Linked DNA regions of Homo sapiens. The protein of the gene in region 2 interacts with the protein of the main gene of each other region in a biochemical or structural test. Each region holds a gene or a part of one and is shown on either strand. Other genes may lie near its edges.

Region 1 (3,500 bases), on a different chromosome or scaffold from region 2:
AAGCTCCAAGTTTAAGAACCCTTCAAACATTCAAAGGGGATGCAACAATATTAATAATGTCCTTAAAACAAAATCAAGTATCATTTTAGCATGTAAGTTAGCACATCACACTCCCTCCGAGGAGGGAGCCTTACACCCTAACTAGTTCAGTTTGCTTTCCCTGTGAGATTTAACTGTGTATTTTCCTGAGGATTACAAATTATCCTGAAGCATACTGCACGTTGCAGAATGTGTCCAGATGAGACTGGAAATGCAAGACTTTGTTCTCTGTCTTGCTGAGGCTCCTTTCCCCAGGAGAAGCCTGTGGCCACATTCCAGTGAGTGATGTGAACTTCACTTATGGCTTAGCTCGTGGTCCTAGCTCCCACTCAGTCCTAAATTTTGAAATAGGCCATGAAAATACTCAGGAAATACAGACATGATAAAAATGCATGTGGAAAACAAACACCCACTGGTATCGGTGCTGTTTTTCTGGTTTCTTCTATTTGCACTATATTACGGCTGTGGCCCATGGGTGAATTTCTTGTGGGGTCTGGCATATCATCGTGGATTCTCAAATTTACTTTTTGCCTAATAGGAAAGCCAATCAATTTAGCCCATATGTGTATCCATCCAAAGAGCTATGAAAATGGTCAAAACACCAGTAAAAAATTACTCATTTATATCAAACTTTGCAACAAGAGCCCATATGAGAAGGCAACAAATCATTCTCTCCCTTTTAGTGACTCAGAGCATCCTAGAACACTGCAACCCTGTTACAAAGTGTTGTCTGGTGGGGCTGAGAGATCCACTTCCCCTACATGAGTCTACAAACCTGCTGTATAAAAGTTTGAAATGATGAATGACGAACTGAAAATGGAGTAAGTGATGATATGTGAACCCTAATATCAACCTCTGCCTGCAAATCCCTGGGCAATCAGGTTGTACAACTAACAACAGGCAAAGACGACAAACTAACAGAGAGAACAATGCATTTGTAGAAATAAGTGTGTGCTGTGTGAGCTCTGAGGACATTAGAATGACTCCAAAGCTGACACAATTGTACCCTGGTAATCAATATGAACAGGGTGCACAATTTGTACAACAGGGTTCGTTCATCTGGTTCTAACATCCAACTCTTCAACGGTTTTCGCGCGAAACTGTAACTGATGCATACGAAACAGATTGAGGTCCACATGAAAAAAGCCAAATTGTGAACATTCCACTCATAATCTGGCTTTTCTACATTTAACAAAAATTTAACACCAAGGCAATCAACACTCAATCTGGTCCCACACAATGGGAAAAGTGAGACTCCCGCTCAACCATCTACCACTTTAGGCCTCCCTCCCCAGTCAAACATCTTGCTTTGAGCTAGACGAAGATGGGATGGCATTCAGCCTATTCAAAGACACTGGCCAGTATTCACATACCTCAATAATCCTGTCATGAATTTGCAGGCCTCCTTCCTTGGCTGCAGGCCCACTGTCAACTATCTTGGATACAAAGATTCCTTCACTGGATGATCCATCGTGGTTATCCTTTGGGTTAAAAAAAAAAACATGCATGAATGCTAGGCATTAAGTTGAGCATGAAAGTAAAGCTTGCACTCTTAAAACAGTAATTGACTCTTGCTGTGTCAAGAGTGGCAATAGGGTAAAAGGTATTTGTTTCTCCTAATTTCTGTTTTAAACTAAAATACACACACAGTAAAATATTTCAAACCACACCAAAGGACATAAAATGATGCATCCCTGCCATCTCCAACCCATTGTCCTTCTTCCCCCGCCTATGGTAGCTATTTGACTTTATGCATCCTTTTGAAAACATTTTAACACATCATATTCCTAAATATGCATTTGTTCCTTTTTGCATACAAATGTGATTATGCTAGTCTGACTCTTATGTCCTTGCCTCTCTCATTTAACTCTAAAAATCATGAAGATCTTCTGCTACCAATTCGTGTCTGCCTTACTTCTTAAAGTGACTGAACAGTATCCAACATGAGGCTAATAAACACTGTTTTCATTTGCTGTGATTAAACAATGCTGTGATAATACTCTCCTACTTGTATTTTAAATTATCTTTGCTATTATAGTTCTAGGGCAAATCCCTAACAATGGAACTGTTGGGTAAAAGGATATGTACATTTCAAAGATATTGCCAAATGGCTTTTCAGAGAGTTTATACTTATTGTTCATTAGACAGAGTGTTTTCCCACATCCTCATTTGCACAGAATGTTATTAAACTTGTAAATATCTAATAATTTGACTGTGAAAACAGATATTTTGTTTTTGTTCCGATGCACTACCATCACTCTAGTCCTAATAAATTCTGATCTCTGACCTCCTTGAATCTCTTTAGATCTTTGAATTAAATGTCAGAACTAAAACTTTCTGGGAACGAAGACAGCTCACTGTTCAAACTCCTTCCTTTCCTTAAAATCAAAAGGCTCCAACAAGCTCATAAAAAACCCTCACAGCTTGTTCACGAACTTCTTTTCAAACAGCACTGCAATGAATTCTCTCCAAGTGTACGGATTAAATTTCTAGTGATTAACAGATGGATTTATAAATTAAATGGCACAAGCATGTGATATTTCCAAACAAAATCATTTGAAATGTAAGCTCAGAATGTTCCACAAAAACTCCAAAATCTAGTCATGGTAAATTCCTTGCCGTATGTCATTAGAAGATTTATTTCAATAACAATTACTCTGAATACAAATACATAAAAATTCCATTTGTTAAAAATAACTCTTCAAATAAAACATTTTCCACTTTAAACAGCAAAAAACAAAACCAAAAAACAATCCCTATATTCTAAAGGGGGAAGGAAACGACTTCAAGTGTGATTCAGTCTACCCCTTCAAATGCAACAGCAATAACTAAGCTTGGAAAAATGTACATTTCTCAGTCCTTCTCTCCTTCCTTCTTCACACTTCCCCAAACACACACACACACATACACACACACACACACACACACAGAGTAAAATGTTATATGATTCACCAAAAGAAACCAAAATCACAACCTAAAATGAGCATTAAGTGTTTTTCCTGACATTTATCCCCACATGACAAAGATATGTCTCTAACTGGCATCTGGATTCCATCAACGCTCTTCCAAGAGAAGGGTCAGGGAGCCTGTGGGTGCTGTGTAGGATCATCTATCCTCAAAAGGCATCCCTGCCTAGCATCACAGTGCTCTGCACAGACCTCCTGCACACTAACCCTTTACCATCTGAATACCTCTGTGCCTCCTTCCTCTCTCACGGCAGCCTTACTGAGGCACTAGTCTGAACACATCCGTGTAGCTCCCTACATGCACACCTGAAATATATGTATAAAGCTGCAAAGCAGCTTCCTTTACTGAGCACAAACTAGGTACCAGGTACATAGTGAGTGCTCTATGTGCACTGTTTAATCCTCACAATAACCACAAGTGGTAAGTACTATTATTACCCATTCCACAGGTGAAAAACCTGAGACTGAGAGAGGTTCGGAAACTCATCCAAGGTC
Region 2 (3,500 bases):
GCCGTCAATGATTTAGGAGATCGGACAAATGTGTATTTACTTTAAGACATAATTTTGTAAGTTAATTAAAATGATACATACTTTCTGTCTAATTATTTCTTATCATTTGTGTCTACATAACAGCAACGCATACTGGGTCCTGTGGGGGAAATAAAGGTTAATTGAAGGCTCTGACATTTGCTCCTTAATTAATAGGTTTTATATTAGAGAATTATGATTTCATCTTGGAAATTGGATTTACTGACAGCCATTTAGAAACACAGCTGTTTTATGAATTGAAATATACCTTAACACAGAAACCTTTTGTGAAAGTATTAATTGGTAATTTACTAAATCTTTTTAGGGAGGTAACTGGTTTGTTTCTAGTGTAACCCTTTATATTTTACCTTAAACATTTTCTTAATTATGTAAATTCGTAATAATCTTCTTTTTTCATGTTTGAATATTTTCTTCAGAATCTGTGAGAAGGGAGATGTGACTTGGAAACTTCTCTAAGTTTTGCTAAAGAATGTACGACGATGTTTCTGCCTTTGGGCTTGCCATTCCTGTTCTTTTTTTGTGTGTATGAAACAGAGACTTGCTCTGTCACCCAGGCTGGAGTGCAGTGGTGCTCTCTTGGCTCACTGCAACCTCCGCCTCCTGGGTTCAAGCCATCCTCCAGCCTCACTCAGCCTCCCAAGCAGCTGGGATTACAAGTGTCTGCCACAACACCCGGCTAACTTTTAAAAATATTTTTAGTGTAGACAGGGTTTCGCCAGGCTGATCTTGAAGGCTGGGCTGGTCTTGAACTCCTGCCACCCGCCTCTGTCTCCCAGAGTGCTGGGATTACTTGCCATTCCTGTTCTGTAAAGTGTTCTGCTCTCCCTATTTCTGCAAGGAGAATTCTCATGCGTCGTATAGCATTGCATTTGATTCATATGTCTCTTATTGCCCTGATTGTGTATTTTAAAGATCTCTTTCCTTTTTTGCCTTGAGATTGAAGGATTTAAAGGAAGGAATCATTTTTTAAATTCATTTTTATATAGCAAGTGCTTACCCCACAATATGCATTCAAAAATATTTGCTAAATTAATGATTGAGACCCATTATTGTCTCCTTTTTTGCCTAATTATATTTTCTCTCTTTTTAAAATCTTTCTTTATGCAGTGCCCTAACCATTTCTAATATTCAGGCTGGATCTACTGGAAATTGGGGCTGTCATGTCCAGACCAAACGTGGGAATAATACGAGGACTGTGGATATTGTGGTATTAGAGAGTTCTGCACAGTACTGTCCTCCAGAGAGGGTGGTAAACAACAAAGGTGACTTCAGGTCAGTGTTGTGGAAAATACGGGGAAAAGTTTAATTTGTCCCAGATCCTTCTGTTGTCTAAGACACATTATTGGTTTCCTGTCCTGAGTAACAAAATTTGAGAACTGCACATGTCTGAGGACTACCCTTTAGAATAATGATTTCAGAATCACATATGGAGATGAACAAAAGGGGTGCTTGAACTTTATCTCAGACCTGTTGATTGAAGAATCTCTGAAAGTAGAGTCATTTTTAACAAATGGTTTTGTTGTGTAAGAGCCATTGCCTTAGGGAAACATTGGAGATATTCTGGTAAAAGAGTACAAAATTCAAACAGGTTAAGTAAGGTATTTTCTGTTTTTTTTCCCCCCAGTGGCTCTTTTATAGATGAACCTTGGAAGGTTTTATATTGCTAAGGTACTTTTCACTACTGGCAGTTCAGTAGGCATCAGAATTAGAAGAAACACCTATCTAATTTTCTCCCCTTGTTCAGTTCTTCTGGAAATCAAGCAAGAAGGACTTTGGGAAATGAAAGCTGTTGGGTAGCCTGAAACTTGGGGAGCCATGGAATCCCAGGTGGGGTTTGTTAATCTAAGCAAAGGGAGTTATTTATTTATTTTTTTATTTTAGTAGAAAGTTTAGGATTTGCAAGAGATGACAGCTTTTACCTTAAACTCTCTTTACTTTCAAAGGTGCTTTAAGACATCTTTAAATATCTTATTTACTTGATCTTATTTATGTTCAGGGATTTAAAAAATGAGTTTATAGTTGATATGAACAAAGGGAAATATGTTATTCTTTGAAGCAGCATAAAGATTGTTTATTACCCAGTTTGCATTGTCTCTAATGGGTTCAGTTGTTACCTCCTGTCTCTAACCTCAGTGTTTCAAGGGTGGGAAAACCCTTTGGTGTTAATCTTTTAAATCCAAAGTAAAGAAGCAATAATAACATCTTTATCTCAGCTAGTTTGCCATTGCTCTTTTTAAAAAAGTTATTCTTGACATCAATATATGGAAATCAACATTTATTATTGCCAATGGATAAGTCTTTTATGTAGATTAGGTATTGATCTATAATATTTATAGTACATGCTTTTAAGTGAAATATATGATATTTGGTAATTTTGTTACATTCAACATCTTTTATCAAATAATCCTAATATGATATTTACTATTTATGGTAGATTTTCTATATTCTCATAGTTTTGAGTGCTTTACATTTTTAAAAATAGAGCAATTAAATGTTTATAGATCAATGAATTATTTGTCTTTGACACTCCTTAAGATATTATGCAATTAAATTCCCACTGCATTAATAAGATTTAGTTTAGTGTTGCTTGATCTATTTATGTGGTTTTTGTAATGAATTCTGTTTTGGTGTGACTGATACTGTCATTTAGTGGTTCCTGTGATGAGCATCCATGGTAACTTGTATTAAACATGTTGAATTTCATTCTCAGTTTTGGAGACATAGAGTTCAAATAACAAAGGTTTCTCCCAGCCCAGTTTTGATGACCCGTGTCAGGGTTGTATTGACATGACACATCTTCATCTTTGATTTTTTTCTCTGCTGTTGTTATTCTTGATGTACCCGTGTCATTTAGATTTTCTTGTACTATTTTGTCTTCATCTCTAGATGGCCCAGAACATTGGCAGGCATTACTGCATATCTGCAGTGTACGCGGAACACCCATGGCAGTGGGATATATCCCGGAAACCCACAGGATGAGAGAAAAGCTTGGCGCAGATGTGATAGAGGTGGCTTTTGGGCAGATGATGATTATTCTCGCTGTCAGTATGCAAATGATGTCACTAGAGTTCTTTATATGTTTAATCAGGTAACTAGAAAGTCTTCATGTTTACTTGGGTTGTGGAGAAAACATGGTATTCAAACCAAATACATAAGTTTTTTTTTTTTTTTTAATACTAGGCAAAACATAAGGATTTTGTGTTTTTACTTTAGTTGACTTAACTGTCTTCAGGATCAGGTCCATCTTAATCACTAGTCAAGGCCCTCTATAGAATCCTTCCTTTGCAGTCACCATCTCCCTTTGTGCCTTTGTTTGAATATCTTTTTTTTAATCTGTATCCACCAGACAGAATCCTAACCATCCTTCGAGTTCACATTGAAAGCCACCTCTTGGATTCATTTTATAATCACTTTGTTGAAAGCGATTGCTTAGAATACTTGAACTACTCATGTGCTTTTTG

Evidence for each region. Proteins that work in one complex are often made in the same cells at the same time.
Region 1: the proteins of ADGRA3 (region 2) and PDZRN3 interact in a test that uses a peptide from one of them, tested with the Homo sapiens proteins (one large-scale study listed by IntAct).

Annotation. Positions count from the first base shown.
Region 1 is NC_000003.12:73,600,942-73,604,441, forward strand, and holds part of PDZRN3 (E3 ubiquitin-protein ligase PDZRN3), read right to left. Parts: intron 1,521-3,500; coding exon 1,413-1,520; intron 1-1,412. UniProt on the Homo sapiens protein: E3 ubiquitin-protein ligase. Plays an important role in regulating the surface level of MUSK on myotubes. Mediates the ubiquitination of MUSK, promoting its endocytosis and lysosomal degradation. Might contribute to terminal myogenic differentiation.
Region 2 is NC_000004.12:22,436,067-22,439,566, reverse strand, and holds part of ADGRA3 (adhesion G protein-coupled receptor A3 precursor), read left to right. Parts: intron 1-1,146; coding exon 1,147-1,311; intron 1,312-2,925; coding exon 2,926-3,127; intron 3,128-3,500. UniProt on the Homo sapiens protein: Orphan receptor that may have a role in planar cell polarity pathway.